Linked DNA regions of Homo sapiens. The protein of the gene in region 3 purifies or fractionates together with the protein of the main gene of each other region. This does not show direct contact. Each region holds a gene or a part of one and is shown on either strand. Other genes may lie near its edges.

Region 1 (4,452 bases), on a different chromosome or scaffold from region 3:
TAGCGCCTCAACTGCATTTCCTGCAGAGCACCCCTCTTCTGCACCCACAGACACACATTCTAAGACTTGGCGCCTTTCCCTCTCCTCCCACTGTTGACTTCTTGGGATCATTTTGGTTGTTTCTGTTCCCTCTGGCACCTCCATCCCTGCTAGGCTTTGGCCATGGCTTCTTCCTCATTGTCTCTCCCTCGAGAGGGTGTTATTCCTGGGCTTCCAGGCCTTCAAGTCCCTGAGTTTCCCGATTGAGTTATTTCAGAGTACGGACTGCCAAGGCTAGGGCCTTAGCTTTGCTGGGTCGTAGAGCCTCTGGTCAAACCTCATTGGCTTCTCTGGTCTCTCGAGAGAACCCTAGAGACCCTGTCCACAGGGCAGAAAACGTGCAGAGCAAACTGTGCCACAACTCGTGGAGTCCTATTTGCAAATCTGGACTGCCGACCAGTCATGCTGGCCCCTTTCCTTCAGTGCGGCACCTAGCAAGGAGCTGGAGGCACCTTCCGTGCAGAAGGCAACCTCCGACCACCAGCCCTGAGAATATCCCAATACCTAGAGCCAAAGGTCATGGCTGCTTCTCTTTTCCCTGTCCCTGGGGCCCAGAGGGGTGGCCACTACTTTCTCAGCTTTCGTGATCAGGCCCCTTTCACTGGGCCCTCACGGTAATCATCTGCTGCCATGGTGCCTGGCTTTTCCTCTCAGGAAAGCAGTCTTGCCATCATGGCTACTAATCGTTCCTTAGAATGTAGACCTGCCTCAGCTAGGGAACATCCTTAGCAGGTCAGGGGTGGATGTAAAGGACAACTCCCTCTTCCAGAACCTTTTGCTCAAGAGCAAAGTTATCTTAGCTCCAAAGACCAACCCAAAGCCATTATTAGAGAGAAGCCAGAAGGGCAAGAAGGAAAGGCAGGCCCAGGTCTTGGTATGAGGGAGGCCAGCAGGAGCTTCAGAGCAGAGCCAAGAATGAGACAAGTTCCCAAGGCAGGTTCCTCCCCTTTTCTCCTTCTTCACTCTGTGCAGGCCAGACTGTGATATTCTTGGGCCTTGCCTGGGCCCCTTCCCAGAAAGTTGGGGTGTGAGCTAATAAAGCTTTCAGTCCAAGGCTAGCATCCCCTAGCATGGAAGCAGGGCACACTGCACAGAGAGGGGCCATTCTCTGGCCAGGAGACAAAGCCAGCATCCAGGCGCCCTAGGCTTGGCTGTGGGCAGATCTCAACCACCTAGTCACAGCCAGAGAGCCTGCATCCCCTCCTCACCACAGGCTGCAGCTTAAGTGGCTGCATTGAATTAAAGGATGGATTGAGGGCGTGGAGCAGGCCCTGCACTGACTGACCCCCAGCCTGGGAGGGGGTTTAAGTGGGCTGCAAGGCTGGGTGGCACTGCAGGATGGCACTTAGGACCCTCACTCTGGGCCAGAGTGCTCTGTACTATTTTGGCCAATTGACCCCCAACTCTTGACCAAGCTCTGGACCAACTCTTGACCAAGCTGCTCCAGTCTGCTCTGGCTGCTCCCCCTTCCTAAGGAGGAATAGGAGGCTCCTGACTCCCACAGAACCAAGATGGGGTGGCCGACAGCTTCATTCAGGCTCAGGCTTACCAAAACCCTGGTTCCCAGGCCTCCCACAAGATTGACGACAGCACAAACTTACTCAAGACAGGTCAGACATTTATAAAACAAGTGAATATTCACAAACAAATTGTGGGAGAAACACACCTTCCCAGCAATAGAAAATCTCTATAAAGTGCATTTTGCCTGCAACCATCTCTTCCCCATGCTGGCCCTTGGGTCAGGATTTGAGGCACTGTTCCGAGGGAGCCCTCAGGGCCACCTGAGCTGGGAGAAGGGAGGCATGAAGCCACCATGGAGCTCCAGGCTACTGGACATACCCTCTCTACCCTGCCCTTCCCTCTTGGCTCCAGGAGTGCACTGCCTGACTCCACTGGCAGGTTGATCTGGGAACGGGCTGACATGCTAGGGATGGTGGAGAAGTAGGCGGAGGTGGTCCTGCCAACCTGTACCTTAGGGAAGAGAGCCAGCAGCAGACAGGCAGGAAAAGGAATCATCCTGCTACCCGAAGGCGCTGCTAGTGAATACTAAATCTGGGCCTCGGCCTTTGGCCTTCCCACTCTCAGATTTGCCCTTCCAGGTTTGCTTGACTCTCTTTCTGGCAGTGGCCCGATTCTCTTTCCTCTCGACTGGGGCTGAGGGAACAGGGAAGCCCCCAACCCAATGCTCTGAATGCACACCATCCCCTGTGCCCTGCTCCCCTCCCACGATGATGGGACATTTCTAGTGAAGGTGACATACGTACAACAGTTGGACTCTAAAGGCAGCTCTCTGGCTGAGAAAACCTGAGGATATCTCAGGAAGAAGCCTGTCAGTGTGATGGACAGCTACAGGAGATGGGTCTGACCCCAGGGTTCTGGTCCAAGGACAGAGGACAGTGAGGGACAGGGCTGGGGCCAAAAGAATTAACAGATCTGAGGCTAGGAAAGGTCACAGGGGAGGTAGAAAGGAAAAGGCCCAAAGGCCAGCTTAATGATACACGTGAGGACAAAAATCCAAACAGGAATCAGCCTCATAGCCACACACACACACACGTACCACACACGCACACACACACACACACTTTGTGGCTCAAGTGCAGGCCACAGGGTGGAAGGAAGACTTGCTTTAGTTGGCCACCGTCGTCCTTTTGCATGACATCTTTCTCAACACAGGCCTTTGGCAGTGGGAAGGAAGAGGTGGGAGGCACAGGCCACTCCTGGAATGCAAGGATTGGCTTCTCTGGGTCAAACCTCCCACCTACTGCTCCTGGAAGGAATGGTGTTCTGGGTGTAATCTCTACTTGGACTTTTGCCAACTGCCCCTGGCAGTCCCCATCCCTGAGTCCCTCTGCCTGAGTCCTTGGAGCTCAGCTACTGGGATAGCTGACATGGCAGTCTGGATGCTGACAAGTCCAGGACAGGCCCTGGAAGCCAACAGAATAAAGACTAGAATGGTTTCCCTGGCTGGGTGTCAGCTGTCCTCACTGGCAGCACTGTGGTGCCTTGGAGTGTGGCCAGAGAAACCAGGGGGCCTTACGCCACTGCAACCTGGTCTCCTCCTGGTAGAGTGAGTCAGTTTGACCCTTGCCCCTTCACAGCTCCTGGGTAGGCTCTGAGGCTGGCTCTTAGCTTCTGGGGAAGGAACAATGACAGCTGGGATTCTCTTTCTAATTTTAGGTTCTAAATCCTGAAAAGGTAGGTGTGCTGTCTTAGGCTCCTATTACAGTACCAGGCATACCCCACACCAGTCAGGTATCTGTGTGTACTTCTGTAGGGTGGTGGAAACTTTTTAGATCTGTCTATGGCCTCATGCTCAGTCCCAGAAGCCCAAGGAAGGGCCTGGGACTGAGCCCAGTAGCAGAGAATTTTAAAATAAGAAACAGAGGCCAGGTGGCTACGTCTGGACAGCATCCATCCACTCCGGCCTGCTCAGCCTCCAGGTCAGAAAGCAGGAACTCAGCAGGGCTCTGGCTGCCTCCAGAATCCCATGCTTTGGACAACAGCCAGAACTGCTGTGCTCCTGCTCCACAGCCTGACGTGAGGAGGGAGGGAAGGAGGTCTAGGGAGGCAGATGCCAGAATCCCAGCTAGGGTCCTACCACTACGTTCTGTTCAGACAAGGCAGCTGGCTTGCAGGAACAGGTCTCAGCTGAAAGTCACTGCCATAACCTCGAGCCTTGTGTCTGGAGGCCGGGAAACAGCACTGGCGTGCTACAGGTACTCCCCCAGCCCAGGCAACATTCAGAATCATGAGTGTCAACAGATGCATGCACACACAAACAGGCACACCACTCCCTCCTCTGCACACGCGCACACACACACACATGCTCGCTCTATCTCTGCCCGGTGATCAGCTTCTCTGCAGGTTGTACTCTGCTGCTGCGGTGGCTGCTTGGGCACCCAGGCTTTGCTCACGGAGCAAGGGCTCTGCAGCTGGAAGAGAAAAACAAGTGCAAAAGGAGCATTCAGGAGGCTGCTCAGTTGCCCAGGGACACAAGCTCCTCTGGCTGCTTCTCTGGGGACATTCAGAGCGGGACCTGAGAAGAGCTGAAAGAGTGAGCTGAAAGGGCCACGGTACCTGGGGACAGGTTGTTGCTGGGATGCCACTGGGATGAGGGAATACTGCCCCTCTGAGGTGCTGATGCAGGACAAGCTCCCCACTGCAGGCCCTCCACCCAGGGCTGCGGACAGCAGAGGAGGAGGAGGACAAGGCTATGTGAGAGTCACGTGAAGCCCTGGGGGATACTTGCTCAGATATGACAAGGGCAGCTTCTGAATCAAGGCACAGCAGCTGCTGCCAGAGATGGAGAATCAGGAAAAAATGGCTGGAAGAGAAGCCCGCTGGGACCAGTAATTTTGAAGAGTAAGGCAATGACTGAGTTTACAATCAGCAGGTGAGCACATTTCCACATAT
Region 2 (5,317 bases), on a different chromosome or scaffold from region 3:
GAAGGGAATCATGCTGAAAAGTGTGGCAACCCCAAGCATTGACACATTTGCTCTACTGTGGATCTTATTCTGCAGTGATTAATTAACTTTCCTACTAACATACTCAAGCAGATTCTATGTCCTAAGGGCAGTCTAATTAATTCATTTTTCACTCTGAATGATGTAGTTTTTCTAAACGGAAGCCACCTGACTACAAGTATTGATGATTCTTTACAATCTTTTGGCACTTTGTTTATGTTCTGCCTTTGAATGTGACGACATCAAAATATTAGCTTTAACCCACCCCCCAAATAGTTTTTAGGAAGAACCTTCCCACACTGTCAACCCTCTCCTCTTTCAGTTAAAGGTCGCCTGCCCCCCAGGAAACCACTCTGACATGAAATCCTTAGCCTCTCAGGGCAACAGTGACATTTTCTGTGCCTTCCTAATGACTGACTTTGTCTATCTTGGCTTTCCTCTTGAATTGCTACTTGCTATTCTGAAAGACAGAAAAGAAATCCAAAAAATTTTGGTTGTCAGAAGAAATACCCCTTGATTTGTAGTGATAATTTAGGATTTCTCAGGGAAGGATCAAACCATTCCATCTAATGTGTGTACATGTGTGCACAGGTGTTGCCATGGCCAGGGGAAGTGTGCATGTGAAGCTTACTGTGATCAAGCTATTTGTTTTGCTCAGCATTGCAAAAGGTAGAAAAAAGGAACATGCTTAAAAACAGAACCTCTCCACCAAAAAGTTGTTATTTTCATTCCTTCAACTGAGATATTTGGCTGGACTCCTTTTTAAATAGGAAGAGGTGACACAAAGACTAGTTACCAATATGGTTAACACATTTACAGCAAACCTGTGAACTCCAAACTAAGGCTGAGTTAGCAACAGCCAACAAGCAAAAAACGCAGTCTGCTCAGAGATCCTTTACTCAGCTCCAGAGAGGCTTCATTACACTGGACTCCTTATCCCATCTTCCTTCTCTCTTACTCTTCTCCCCGCCATCTTCCATCTTTCTTTATAAAGCAGTGCACATAATGAAAACTGGGGGTATTTACTCACCTGTAATATGGTAGCTCACTTGGCGATTAACGTCGGATGTGTCTCTGTCCCAGGTGCTGAGGACGGCTACCACCTCGCCCGGTGGGTCGCTCTCCTTCACATTCCCTCGGTACACTTCCTGCGCGAAGACTGGTGCATTGTCATTTATATCTGTCACTCTGACAGAGACCAAGGCCGTGGAGGAAAGAGAGAATGCCTCTCCAAGGTCAGAGGCCACCACAGAGAAGGTGAATGTGGGGTCTGTCTCGTGATCTAGGTCCTTCAAGGTACTGATCCAGCCCGTGTTGCTGTCAATATTGAATGCTTCCATTACCTTTTCGGGCTGGGAATCCGAGTGGAGGGAGTAAGTGACTTGTCCATTGGCTCCCCAGTCCATATCAATAGCTCTCACTTGTGTGAGTTTGGTGCCAACAGGCATCCCTTCCATTATAATGGTGTCATAGCTTGAAGTTTCAAAGACTGGCTTGTTGTCATTCAAATCCAATACCTTGATATCTACATCCACAGTAAACACAATGTCTACTTTGTCCAGGGGTATAGTGGCTGCTACTTTAAAGTGGAAAGCTGGGCTGGTTTCACGGTCAAGGCGTTTGTCAAGCTTAATAGTGCCTGTTTCCTGTTCTATGACGAATATGCCCCCTTTGTTATTTTCTGGCCGTTCCCCATTAACTGTGCTGAACCAGACATTCTGACTGGGCAAAATCCTCAGGGTGTCCACTGTACTCCCAATGGCTGTATCTTCTGCAATGGTAAAGGAATACTGAGACTGGGTGAATGATGGCAAGAACGTTTCAGGGGGCAAGACGTGGATATAGACAGGAATGAGGGAGTGCTTTACTGGGATGCCCCCATCTACTGCTTTGACAAAGAACGAAAGCACTGTATTTTTCAGCTGGTTAAAATTACCCTTTGTGACCATCCAGCCATTGTCAGGATCGATTTCCAGGAGGTCGGCCACTGAAACAGAGGCCTCGCTATAGAGGGAATAAGTAATCCTTGAATTTGCTCCATCATCGGGATCTATGGCTTGAACTTGAGTGACCAAGTGGCCCCTTCCAACATCTGCCCTGACACTGGCTCTATATTCCACTGTCATGAACTGGGGAGCATTGTCATTTTCATCCACAACAATCACTCTCACAGTGCAGAAAGTTGTTCTCCCTCCACCATCAAGGGCCCTCACAAAAATACTAACATCCCCTTCTAGAGGGTTTTCCCGGTCTAGCCTTTCTGTGGTGATGACCTGCCCATTGCTGTCTATGAGGAATCGATCCTTGGCAAAGTCATTGATGATGGCATAGCTGATCTGCCCATAAGTCCCTGGATCACCATCTGTGGCTCGAACATGAATTACCTTTGTTCCTGCAGCCACGTTCTCTCTCACCTCAGCTACGTATGTGCTTTGTGAAAAGGCAGGGCTGTACAAGTTAGCCCCAAGTACCCTAATATGCACCTGTGCAGTGCTGGTGAACAACCCATCAGAGACAGACACATTGAGACTGTACAGAGGCTCCATCCGCTGCTTCCGATGGTTGGACAATGTGATAACTCCACTCTTGCTGTCCATCAGAAAGCTCGTCCGGTCATTCCCAGATAAAATGCTATATTCCAACCGGTCAAAATCAGAGCTGTCTGCATCAGAGGCTTGTACACAGGTTACAAAATGGCCCCGGGGGGCTAATTCACTCACATATGACTCATAAATGAGCTGATTAAAAACTGGAGGGTTGTCATTTACATCAGAGATGTAGATATGAACGAGAACCTCACTGCTCAGTGATGGGAAGCCACTATCTATTGATCTGACTTTCAAAGTGCAGTGTTGTACTAACTCATGGTCCAGCATTCGTGCTGTCAGGATTAAGCCACTTGAGCTATCTATGTGAAAATAATCTGTGCTATTGTAGGTATCCTGGACAATCTGATAATGTACCATTTTATTGTTTTCTGAGTCTGCATCAATAGAGACAACTTGTAAAACAGGTGTCCCAATAAGAGATGCTTCTGATAGTGTTGTATTGTATGTAGGCTGATCGAAAATAGGGGGGTTGTCATTTACATCATTAACTAGCAAGTCAACAGTGACTTCAGCCCTAGCACCAGTAAGGGCGTCGCTGGCTCTTATTGTCAGCTTGTAAGCAGATGTAACTTCATAATCCAAAGGGCTAACAACTTTCAGGACCCCAGTGTCAAAGTCAATGTTAAACTGTTTAAAAGGGTCCCCATCGATAATGATATATATGATGCCTTGGCCTTCTGGACTGGTGGCATTGATGCTTAGGATGGGTGTGTTCATTCTGATGTCTTCATTGACAGATGCTGTATAAAAGGGCTTATCAAACACAGGCATTGCTTTGTTGACAATAGTGATGGGAAGCTCCACAGATGTAGACAAAGAAGGTTTTCCGCCATCCTTGGCTAGGATGGTGACTCCATACTCAATGTTGGACAAGTCAGAGTTGAATGCTTCCTTTAAAATAACATTCCCTGAATTAGGGTTAATTTCAAAGTGGCCATAGTCATCCTGCAGGACATAGGTCACTTCTCCATTTGGACCTTTATCTTTGTCAATGGCTGTCACCTGATAAATCAGAGTCCCGGGTTCCGCATCCACTTGAACAGCAGCATAGTATGGGAGGCCCACAAAGACTGGAGAATTGTCATTTATGTCTTCAATGTTAACCCTGACCACCACTCTGGCCACACGCAGATGGTCCAGCTCACGGCTGGCTTCTACCACCAGCTCATATAACTCTTGTTCTTCACGGTCAAAGGGGACTCCAGTCGTCTGAATGACCCCTGAGGTAGATTTTATCTTGAACTTATTTCCTGGGTTTAAGATGCTGTATTTTAAGGGCTCATTAAGGCGATTTCCAACTGCATTGACAATAGCAACTTTGGTTATGTTAGTGTTGTTCTCTGAGATTGAGGTGGAATAGAAGCTTTGTGTAAAGTGGAGGCCGCTGTCCATGGCTTCTTTAACCATGATGGTGACCATGGAGGTACTGTAGAACTTTCCATCAGACACCTTAACTATCAGCATGTAGTGATCCTTGGAGAGGTTGTTGTTTTTTATGGTAAGTACTCCACTGTTTGAGTCAATTAAAAAATGATCCAAACTGCCTTCCATTAGGCTGTATGTCAGTTCAGGGGGTACCTCAGAGTCAGGATCTGTGGCACTAACTTTCAGAACCTCCACTCCAACATAGGTAGGTAGAAGTAAGATAGTCTCAAACACAGCCTGAGTAAAAACAGGTGGGTTATCATTCACATCTGTCACCTCAATGTTGACTTCAACGGGACTCTCTGCAGTCAGTTGGGGGCTACCACTGTCTCTCACATGCACATGAAAATGGAAATGGGCAATGGTTTCATGGTCCAGGTTGGCAATTGTTCTGATTGCACCTGTACTGGAGTCCACCGTGAAAAACTTTTTTGCTGTTGACTCCACAATCTGATACACAAGCAGAGCATTCCGGTTGCTGTCAGCATCTGTGGCTCGAATCACCAGTGGGCTGTTATCCAAGCTCCTGACAATGCTATTAATTGGGGCAGCCTCACTTAGGCTGCCTGAGTATTGAGAAAAGAGAAAAACTGGGGCATTATCATTTTCATCAACAATCTGAATATTGACTGTAGCATTGGAAGCCATTCCTGCCATATTGGTGGCCTGAATGATGAGTTGATAAGAGGATGTGCGCTCATAATCCAGGGCCTTCTGAGTGGTGATGACTCCAGAATATGGATTTATGGTAAAGATCCCATTAATGTCTCCATCTTTGACTTCATAAATGAGGGTAGATTGACTGATGGCAGAGATTAGAATGACTGATGTTCCAATGTCAACATTTTCATTTACTTCTGCTTGGTAGTCTTTGTGAATGAACTTGGGGTGAGAATTGTCAGACATGGTGACGGAAATGCGCACAATTGCAGTAGCAGACATTGGCGGGGATCCCTGATCTGTGACTTTGATGGATAGGACAAACTGACCCATCGTCGTCATGTCTGGTTCTTTGCAAATGGTGATGATGCCTAGGACCGGTTCGATCTTAAACATGTTCCCAGTGTTCCCTAAAATACAGAAATCAATGGTGAAATGAGTTACATGTGGGTCACTGAAATCTTTTTGATTAACTCTTTATCTATAGGTACCTTACTGCAATGTGGCAAGTAGAAAGCAATTATAGTACTCATCTGTGTCATTCTGAAATAAAATGAGAGGCTTCTCTTTCAGGGGTACTGAAAAGGAACCAAAATGAGTTTCCC
Region 3 (5,317 bases):
AGACAGGAGAACGGCGTGAACCCGGGAGGCGGAGCTTGCAGTGAGCCGAGATCACGCCACTGCACTCCCGCCTGGGTGACAGAGCGAGACTCTGTCTCTAAAAAATAATAATGATAAAAATGCAGTAATGATATATCAGGAATTTACCAAACTAAAAATGAACCATTGTAAACACTTTTTCTCTCTGACATTTCCAGGGATTTCATTAAAGCCATATTCTCTTTAGCACAAACCTCAGTGCTTCATATATGATATGTTCCTGAATGACAGAGTACTGTTTCTGCTCCCCCCGCAAAAAAATTGTGTATGCATCTGAAATTTTTAGTTAGTACCTTAAATGTATCTTGCTTCCTGTGATCCAGAACATGCAGAATTCATAAAATCAAATCTTAAGTTTGCACAACTATCAGTATTTTAGGTAAAAGCAGAAAATGATCTGTTTTTGAGAAAAATGCACTGAGGTGTTCTCATCCGAAAAAAATAATCCAGCTTGATAGTGATGAAATGGTTTCCTAAAGATACTGTTGTCACTGGACTACCTGTTTATCTCCCTGTGTTTCTTAGCAAACAGTGAGTTTTTCCAGATTCTCAGTCAGAATGGAGCACCTCAGGCAGATGTGAGCATGTACAGTCTTGAGGAGCTGGCCACTATCGCTTCAGAACACACTTCCAAAAACACAGTAAGAATTCATGCATTTTGCCATATCAACCTGGGTGACTTTTCCTAAGGGCCTGCTCTAGATGTAGGCTTTTAAGAAGGATAACAACGTTTCAGCAACCACAATTTGAGAGAAGCAAAGGAGGAACTGCTAAAGAGGCATGGTGTAGCTTCTCCGCCCTTGCCAGAGAAAACATCTAAAAGCAGAAGCAGCCCGTTCTGTGTGCTGTGCAGCTCAGTGACTTTGGTTATGAGGTGCTTCTAGCTCCTTAGCATTCCCAAGCTCTCTTGAATTAAGAGAAAACAAAAATTACACTGCAGAGTAATTTCCTGCACCTTATTCTAATCTCCGAATTGTTAATTTCTATTTATATCATTCTTAGTTCCAATACCTACTACTTCAAGTTGTAACAACTGGATGTTATAGAACAGGTGAGTTGAGATGCTGTCATTTTTCCTAAAATTTTGGAAGAGACCTTTAGTATATCTTTTTTAATCTCTCTTCTTGTTTGACAGAGTAATCTTCATGTTTGGTTGATACGGTGGAGATTACTTATTTTAAGTAACATAATTGTTACTTAAAGATTTTGTAATAGTGGAACGTGCGCAATCCCTAGTATTATAACAGTGCTTATTTTATGGACTGGTGTGTACATAGTACTGTAGGAGGTGCTATGGAGATTTTTAAAAATAGCTTAAGAAAATATTTGTCTTTTAAGATATTTAAAATAAAGCTAGAGAGGAAAGTATGCCAATGCTAGCAAACACAAACTGCTGATTATAAATAAGTTTCATTTATGTGTAATGGAAAAAATTAGAGCAGTGATGCTTATGTAATGAGGTTTGTCAAGGACAGCTTCTTGAAGAAGGTGAATCTTCAGTGTGTCTTAAAGCATAGAATCTGCGTTGATGACGAGAACACCGTCCACCCAGGTGTATGGCACAGTTTGCAGAGAAGTTATGTGCCATACGTATTTTAGTCTGCATAGAATAAGCTAGTATATTTTTTGGCATAGAAATTGAACCTTCAGTAGGTGAAGTGCAGGTCTTAGGAGAAGATTTAAGAAGCATGTTGGAGAAAATTATTTGAGGAGTTTTGTTGCATTTGTAGGTTGTGCCTGTGTATTTTAAGATACTGGTCATGTTAGAGATCCAGAAGAAATTTACCTTTCAGGGAATATTGCTAGTGAGTATCTCAATATTTGCATTTATTTTAAATGTTTTTCATAGGATACCTTTGTGGCAGTATTTTCATTTCTGTCTGGAAGGTTAGTGCACATTTCTGAACAGGCTGCTTTGATCCTGAATCGTAAGAAAGATGTCCTGGCGTCTTCTCACTTTGTTGACCTGCTTGCACCTCAAGACATGAGGGTATTCTACGCGCACACTGCCAGAGCTCAGCTTCCTTTCTGGAACAACTGGACCCAAAGAGGTAACAGGACCAATGTTCAGATGTCTATCTTTCCTCATCAAGATCAGTTTCATTCTTACAGGAATAGTACAGAAATTAACATATTATTTAGAACATGCACACTATCTGGTTTTTCTTATTCCTGTTATAGAAAGTCACGTGATGAAAACAGCATTTTAAAAGCTTCTGATAACATACTCAATACGTTTGTTTCCATTTTGTCACATCTGTTTCACAGATGATATGTCATAAATATTATTTCATTACCAGCGTATTGTATAGTGGTTTAGTTGCTATGAAGGCTCTGTTTCCTTTAAGTTAAAATTAAATGTTTTTCCTCCTTCATGATTTCCTTGTATGAGAAATTTTACTTTGGAGATAAAATTTGGATCATTAGGCTGGGCAAGGTGGCTCACGCCTGTAATCCCAGCACTTTGGGAGGTTGAGGCAGGTGGATCACCTGAGGTCAGGAGTTCCAGACCAGCCTGGCCAACATGGTAAAACCCCATCTGTACTAAAAGTACAAAAATTAGTCAGGCATGGTAGTGCATGCCTGTAATCCCAGCTACTCAGGAGGTTGAGGCACGAGAAGCACTTGAACCCGGGAGACAGAGGTTGCAGTGAGCCAAGATCACACCATTGCACTCCAGCCTGGGCGACAAGCGTGAAACTGTTTCTGGGGAAAAAAAAAAAAAAAAATTCAGATCATTAGCTCTCTTACAGTTTTTCTTGCCCCTGAAACTTATGAGTCTTATTACTTTGTTTTCCTTCTGGAATGCTTTTCTTTCATAATTCAAAGATGCCTATTGCAGTTTTCTTTGTGACATTCAGTCCTGTGTGATCTTAATTTATTTCTTTTTAGTCATCCTTCATTATTTTATATTCTTTGTGAAGTGTCTCTTAAAGAGCTTTAAAATATATATATATATATATCAGCGTTCTCTTTGATTCCAAGCCCTTCTCTCTAATTAAAAAAAAAATTCATTGTAGTAAAAAACACATACAGTTTACTATCTGATATAGTTTGGCTGTGTCCCCACCCAAATCTCATGTTGAATTGTAACTCCCACAATTCCCATGTGTCGTGGGAGGAACCCAGTGGGAGATAATTGCATCATGAGGGCGTCTTTCCCATGCTGTTCTCGTGATAGTGGATAAGTCTCATGAGATCTGATTGCTTTAAAAATGGGAGTTTCTCTGCACAAGCTCTCTCTCTTTGCCTGCTGCCGTCCATGTAAGATGTAACTTGCCCCTCCTTGCCTTCTGCCGTGATTGTGAGGCTTCCTCAGCCACGTGGAACTGTAAGTCCGTTAAACCTCTTTCTTTTGTAAATTGCCCAATCTTGGGTCTGTCTTTATCAGCAGCATGCAAACGGACCTAATACACCATCTTAATCATTTTTAGGCATTCACTCCATTGCTGTGAAGGATGTTTACATTGTTGTGAAACAGATCTCCATAACTTTTTCATCTTTATATCTGAAATTCTATCTACTATTTCTAATTTTTTACCCAGTAGTTAATTTAATGAAGGGTAGCTTTGCGTGTTTCTTCTTCCAATTATAGATTGCCCCATCTTTTAAAAATATTTTTACATAAGCTCTAGAAAACATGCATGTCATCCCTGCTTGCTTCTAGCTCATCTCTTTTCCCATCTTTCAAAAATACTGATTTTATTTCTCATCCCCTTTCCTAAATACACATTTTCAACCTTTGTCTGTATTTGTTTCTCTGCTTTTGTTAGCTGTTCATTCCGTAAACATTTATTTAATAATCACGTGGGTCAAGAACTAGTCCGGATACAGATACAGCTGTGAACAGGACATACACAATATTGTCTGCCAGGTCTTTCCCATTTTTTCCCCAGGTATTTTTCCTTCAGCACTGCCTGTGGCTTTTCAGCCTTTTCATTTTTGCTGATTACTGATTACTGCGATATTTCCCTTCTGTATTAGTCCATTCTTACGCTGCTATAAAGAACTATCTGAGACTGGGTAATTAATAAAGGAAAGAAGTTTAATTGACTCACAGTTCCACATGACTGGGGAGGCCTCAGGAAACTTACAATCATGGCAGAAGGGGAAGCAAACATGTCTTTCTACACATGATGGCAGGAAGGAGAAGAATGGGAGCCGAGTGAAGGAGGAAGCCCTTTATAAAGCCATCAGATCTCTTGAGAACTTACTATCATGAGAACAGCATGGGGGAAACTGCCCCCATGATTCAATTACCTCCCTCCGGGTTCCTCCCACCACACATGGGGATTATGGGAACTATAATTCAAGATGAGATTTGGGTGGGGATACAGCCAAACCATATCATTCTGCTCTTAAGCCCTCCCAAATCTCACGTCCTCACATTTCAAAATGCAATCATGCTTTTCCAACAGTCCCCCAAAGTCTTAGCTCATTCCAGCATTAGACCAAAAGTCCAAGTCCAAAGTCTCATATGTGACAAAGCAAGTCCCTTTCACCTATGAGCCTGTAAAATCCAAAGCAAGTTAGTTATCTCCTAGGTACAATAGACGTACAAGCATTGGGTAAATACACCCATTTCAAATGGGAGAAATTGGCCAAAACAAAGGGGCTACAGGCCCCTTGCAAGTCTGAAATCCACTGAAGCAATAATTAAATATTAAAGCTCCAAAATAATCTCCTTTGACTCCATGTCTCACATCCAGGTCATGCTGGTGCAAGAGGTGGGCTCCTACAGCCTTGGGCAGCTCTGCCCTTGTGGCTTTGCAGGGTACAGCCTCCCTTATGGCTGGTTTCATGGGCTGGCATTGAGTGTCTGTGGCTTTTCTGGGCTCACAGTGCAAGCTTTTGGTGGATCTACCATTCTTAGGTCTGGAGGATGGTGGCCCTCTTCTCACAGCTCCACTAGGCAGTGCCCCAGTGAAGACTGTGTGGGCTCCGAACCCAAATTTCCCTTACACATCTCTCTTAGCAGAGGTTCTCTATGAGGGCTCCGCCCCTGTAGCAAACTTCTGCCTGGACATCCAGGCATTTCCGTACATCCTCTGAAATCTAGGCAGAGGTTTCCAAACCTCAGTTCTTGTCTTCTGCACACCTGCAGGACCAACACCATATGGAAGCTGCCAAGGAATAGGGCTTGCACCCTCTGAAGCTATGGCCTGAGCTGTACCTTGGTCCCTTTTAGCCATGGCTGGAGGTGAAGCAGCTGGAATGGAGGGCATCATGTCCCAAGGCTGCACAGAGCAGTGGGGGCCTGGACAGGCCCAGAAAACCA
Region 4 (5,317 bases), on a different chromosome or scaffold from region 3:
AAATAATCTTTGACTCAGTGTGGAAAAGAAATAACACTAATTATAACATTTGTGTCATATACTGCCCCCATTTAATCTCAGCTATGTTTACTATTAAGTTTTGTTACTGGCCTATGAAAAAACAAAAGGGAAAATATTAGCACCAAATATATTTGAAATGTCAGGACTGACTGGGAAGTAACTGACAATAAAATAGAAGGATGCAAAAAGTATATTAGGTGGTACTAAAATATGACAATCCTCTGATTGTGTTCATTTGATTACCTGTACCAGAACCATTTTTTTTTTTTTTTGTAATAGCTATCGGAAAAAAAGTGTGATTACAAAGGAGACAAATTTCATTAGGAAATATTCTCTACAGATTTTTTCTTTGGTCCAGTTAATAACCACTTAATACAACAACAACAACAACAAGTATAACATAATTTCATCCCCACATGGTCACATTTGAAGGCATTCCTTCCAGGTGCCAGGCTGAGTCCTTATCAGCTATAGGCTAAATCCAAATGGCAAAAAACATTCCAGAGAGAATGCCAATGTGTATTTCTCTGGAAGTAAATGGATCAGGGTTATGGGTTTTTTTGTTTTTAGCAATCTGGGAGTTAGAGATTCAAATTTAGCTAATTTGCTTTAAAAGTGCTGTGAACACAAAAATAAAAGTTCTTTGCACTGGAGTCAAAGTTAACAAATATTTTCTTACTTTTTTTTTTTTTTTTAAGCTAAAGAGTGTATTTATTCTTAGTTCTAAAATTTGTTCTACTAGAAACATACTTGTTTAAATGGTTACAAGTTCTAATTTTACATTTTAGTGTGATTATTCATTTAAAAAAAATTCTGTTTTAAGGATATACATGTATAATTTAATAATAGATTAATTATAGAAGTAACAATTTTTACCACTTTGTAAACTTGCTACCCTTTTTGATTAGAAGTAAAAATACAAATTTCCAACACAATGAATATAATTTGGTTTATTTCTCTTTGACTCTCTATAAAAAAAGAACTGGAAAAACTATTGTATTAACTGATTTCAAGTATAGAAGCCATCTTGAAGAAAAGACAGTTACTTGAGCTCTTGTATTTATCAGATGATGAAAAGTGCAGAGAAGAAACAATAAATACAAATGTTCCTAGTCACTGTGTAAATCACATTTAAATTTGATGGGGTTTTCTAAGAATAACACTAAGTTTATAAGTATTAACAATCTTTTAAATCTGAAAAATGTTTTATAAATATGGGTATTAGTTAATATTTGTTATATAAAGTGTTGAATTATTAACTATTTCTTTAAAACAGGACAGATGGCCTAATTAAATGACAAAAGAAAACAACATCTTTTTACATTTTCCCTACTGATACTGTACATATGTAATATAAAGTACACATTCTGGAAGAAAAAAAGGAGTGACAGTCAGAGCAAGTGAGGGGTGGGAAGAGGAGGAAGGGAGGGAGGAAATGAACATTTTTTTCCAGAAGCAACAAAGCAAATATGACTTGGAAATGTCTTCTTGGTAAGAGAGCATGCAACTGTTTTAACATGCTTCTGGATATCAAAGTAACAATCTTATCAGGCAACAAAAAATGTGAAGGAGGAGCATGTATGGTTAAGGTTTTTAAAGGCATGCAGAAAATGGACAAAGTAATTAATATTTCATGCAGGTTTTGGTGTGGTTACACATTCACATTAATATACATGCCATCATGTACAGCTGAACACTGTGCAACAATTTTAAATAAAAAATAAAAACCTAGCCAAATGATATTTTGTTAACAGCAACTTTTCAAATCATATTAGAGAAGCAGTGTATATCAAATAACATCAATATATTATATTGTGCAGTTTTGATCATATACAACCATATTCATACCAAACAGTTTGATTATCCTCAGAAACCAACAATGCAGCTTCTGTGTCATCAGGATAGAGGCATGCAGAAGTGACAAGATTGTTGCTATTTATAGAAAACTGTAGGTTACTGTTACTAGGGTTCTGATGATCAGAAAACTGTTCATTTTCTTTCTGTGCAGGTTTATCCAAAGAGGCAGAAGCCTGGTCAGTTATTCTGATAACTGGCCTAGGAGGTAACCCACTTATGTTACTAACTAATTCTGTATTCAGGGATAAGAATGGCTGAGATGAATGGGCCACAGTAAATGGTCCTATGCTATCTTTTGCCAACATTCCGAATGCATCACTAGGCATCCTAATAGTGGCAAAAGTTTGGTTTAGAAAATGTGACCTTCCTGTTCTTGAGTTTCTAGCCTGGGCATATAGAGGCTCAGGCATGTCTATAGCTAAATCATTTTGGGCACAAGAACCTATAGTATGTGTTGGGATGTCAAGTATATGAGAGGACCACTGGTGTAAATGGTACTCACTAGATGCTGCAGTGGTGTTGCTGTCAGCAGCAGCTGGTGGTGAATCAACTGATATAGGCAGTCTACTGTCCTTGGTCAAAAAATCATGGATGCTTGTCCTTCGTGTAGTTCCTTCGGCAGTTGAGATCACGCTGCTTGCACGAGGTAAAGTTGCATAAGGGTTACTATCTTTTGATTGTCGTGACAGAGAAGATTCTTTTACTAATTTTATTTTTCCTTGAGTGCCTGGTGTAGGTTTTCCCGCAGAACTAATGAAGTAGGTATCTTCAGTTTTTCGAGGACCAGGTCTCAAAAACTCAGGCTTAGTTGTCCGTCTATCATAGAAGTCCCCTGGGGTTTTTCCACTTACTGACCTGGCCAGACCACAGCTAACTGGTTTGTCTTTTCCCAAAAAGTCAGAAGAGACAGACAAACTTTTCATTACTTCATCTAAAAGATTCTCTTGACTTGAGGACTTTATCTGTTTAAAAAAAAATTCAAAGCAGATTAGTGAATATAGTGCCATGTTTTTACTTTCCTGATTTAGCAGACTGTGCAATATAAAATTGTGGTACCTCTTAATACTCCTTAACTTACCAAAAAAAAAAAGCTCTGAAGTTCAATTACAGAAATTTAACTTGTGGTGTTCATCTAAATTAAGGTCATCATAGATAAAACTAACCTGTACTGAGGTAAGCTTATTGCTTTCTTCCAAAAACTGTTGTAGAGTAACAACTTCACTTCCAGGGGAACCAGTTTTGATCTTGTGATGTCGACTCTCCAGTGTTTCAGATATTTTGTGCTGGAGCACTGGGCTTGATCTGGTCTGTCTTTTCAAGTACTGGATTGGACTGCTACCACTGCTGGACCAAGCCTCATGGTCATGAAGCAGGCTAAATTCTCCACTGCTGTGGCTTTGTGGCCTGCTTTGGTTATTAACTGCACCTGCTTTTGGAGTAAATGGGGTGTTGAGATTTCAATAATAGAATTGAGATTAATACTTCATGAGTAATAACATTTGTTGACTGTGTGCTAATTATATGAACAGCCAAATTTACTTTCAAGCTTTATTTAGAAATGCTTAGTAAACCATGTCAATCTTTTATCAGTCTAACAATTGTCTGCCATAGCCTGCTTCCTTATTTTGTCAAACTGACAACTATTGTAAGCTCCATAAGGGCAAAGACTTGCTTTTACTATCATACTCAGAGCCTAAACAGAGCCTCATACAAAGCATTCAATATATTTTTTGAGTAAATGAATGAATAAATAAGTGAATAATATATTTTTTAAAATTCAGGTTCAAATAGTTATAAAATGCCTTGCAGGCCAGGCGTGGTGGCTCACGCCTGTAATCCCAACACTTTGGAAGGCCGAAGCAGGCGGATCACGAGGTCAGGAGTTGGAGACCAGCGTGGCCAATATGGAGAAACCCCGTCTCTACTAAAAATACAAAAAATTTGCCAGGCGTGCTGGTGCACGCCTGTAGTCCCAGCTACTCAGGAGGCTGAGGCAGGAGAATTGCTTGATACTGGGGGGGTGGAGGTTGCAGTGAGCAGAGATCGCGCCACTGCACTCTGGCCTGAGACTCTGTCTCAACAATAAAAATAAATAAAATAAAATGCCTCACAATTTAGGATAAGAACATGATTAGACAAAATATATATATATATTTCATCTAATGTGTATTTTTATATATATTATATATAATATATATAATTTATATATAATTATATATAAATATATAATATATAATATATAAATTTATATATTATATATAAATATATATAATATATATTATATATAAATATATATTATATATAAATATACATATGTGTGTATTTTTTTTTTTTGAGATGGGGTCTCACTGTGTCACCCAGGCTGGAATGCAGTGGCACGATCTCAGCTCACTACAACCCCCGCCTCCTGGGTTCAAGTGATTCTCTTGCCTCTGCCTCCCAAGTAGCTGGGATTACAGGCATGCGCCCCCATGCCAGGCTAATTTTTGTACTTTTAGTAGAGACGGGGCTTCACCATGTTGGCCAGGTTGGTCTGTAACTCCTGACCTCAGGTGATCTGCCCACCTCGGCCTCACAAAGTGCTGGGATTACAGGTGTGAGCCACCGCACCTGGCTCATTAGGTGAATTTTATATTATTTCAGTATGTTAAGACCAAAAACTGTTCTAAATGCAGAAAATTCTATTTTAATTATTTGCTTATCTAAGAAGTCCTCATTACTACTTGAAGGCTTCTCTGTTCATCCTGCATGGATAACTTTAAACATTTAAAAAAATTTAAAGAGCATACACATAAGGAAAGTTAAATAAAGATATGAAGCAATTACTTACAACATTTCAGTAAAAGTATACAATCAAATATGTAGTGCTTTATTCTTTTTTAAATGTCTTGATCATCTTATTGTTCTTGCTGTCCACTGTTGATATGGTGCCTATATAACCTTAAAAGACTCAGTTGACATTAAGCAACTATATAAAATGAAAATTTGCTAGTTCTAGAATTAAACTCCCTCAAATCTATGGTGTTCCTTAAGAGTACGGATTTGTTTTGATCACGAACAAACTGTACATCAAAACAGAAAATGCAACTTTCCATTGTTTCCCAGTCACAGAGAGTAAAGTGGGCCACGAAAGAATTTGGCTCAAGTTATGTAACATTTTACAAAAGTAAGAGTTTCTTAAATTTTCAAATCAGAAAAAAAAAAATCCTATTTTCAGACTACATTTTTCTACTGGATGTAAAAACATTTTTAATTAAATAATTTATTTCTTTTAAGGCTAGTCAAATGAAGTAGTGGGAGTGGGAAAGGAACAAAGAAATCTGAAAAACATGATAAAAATTAAAAAAAGAAACCCACCTCAAAATTAGGTATTTCAGATCACTGTAATAATGTCATAGCATTAATTGATAAAATAAAATTACAACTGAGACAAAATAAT

Evidence for each region.
Region 1: the proteins of PER3 (region 3) and CRY2 purify together in Homo sapiens (affinity purification with mass spectrometry; one large-scale study listed by BioGRID and IntAct). This does not show direct contact.
Region 2: the proteins of PER3 (region 3) and FAT3 purify together in Homo sapiens (affinity purification with mass spectrometry; one large-scale study listed by BioGRID and IntAct). This does not show direct contact.
Region 4: the proteins of PER3 (region 3) and CCDC88A purify together in Homo sapiens (affinity purification with mass spectrometry; one large-scale study listed by BioGRID and IntAct). This does not show direct contact.

Annotation. Positions count from the first base shown.
Region 1 is NC_000011.10:45,880,433-45,884,884, reverse strand, and holds the end of CRY2 (cryptochrome-2), read right to left. Parts: intron 3,972-4,452; 3' UTR 1,641-3,971; downstream 1-1,640. UniProt on the Homo sapiens protein: Transcriptional repressor which forms a core component of the circadian clock.
Region 2 is NC_000011.10:92,797,641-92,802,957, reverse strand, and holds part of FAT3 (protocadherin Fat 3 isoform 1 precursor), read right to left. Parts: intron 5,123-5,317; coding exon 1,049-5,122; intron 1-1,048.
Region 3 is NC_000001.11:7,786,157-7,791,473, forward strand, and holds part of PER3 (period circadian protein homolog 3), read left to right. Parts: intron 1-564; coding exon 565-680; intron 681-1,041; exon of another isoform or gene 1,042-1,090; intron 1,091-1,888; coding exon 1,889-2,090; intron 2,091-5,317. UniProt on the Homo sapiens protein: Originally described as a core component of the circadian clock.
Region 4 is NC_000002.12:55,293,217-55,298,533, forward strand, and holds part of CCDC88A (girdin), read right to left. Parts: intron 3,308-5,317; coding exon 3,042-3,307; intron 2,841-3,041; coding exon 2,381-2,840; intron 1-2,380. UniProt on the Homo sapiens protein: Bifunctional modulator of guanine nucleotide-binding proteins (G proteins). Acts as a non-receptor guanine nucleotide exchange factor which binds to and activates guanine nucleotide-binding protein G(i) alpha subunits.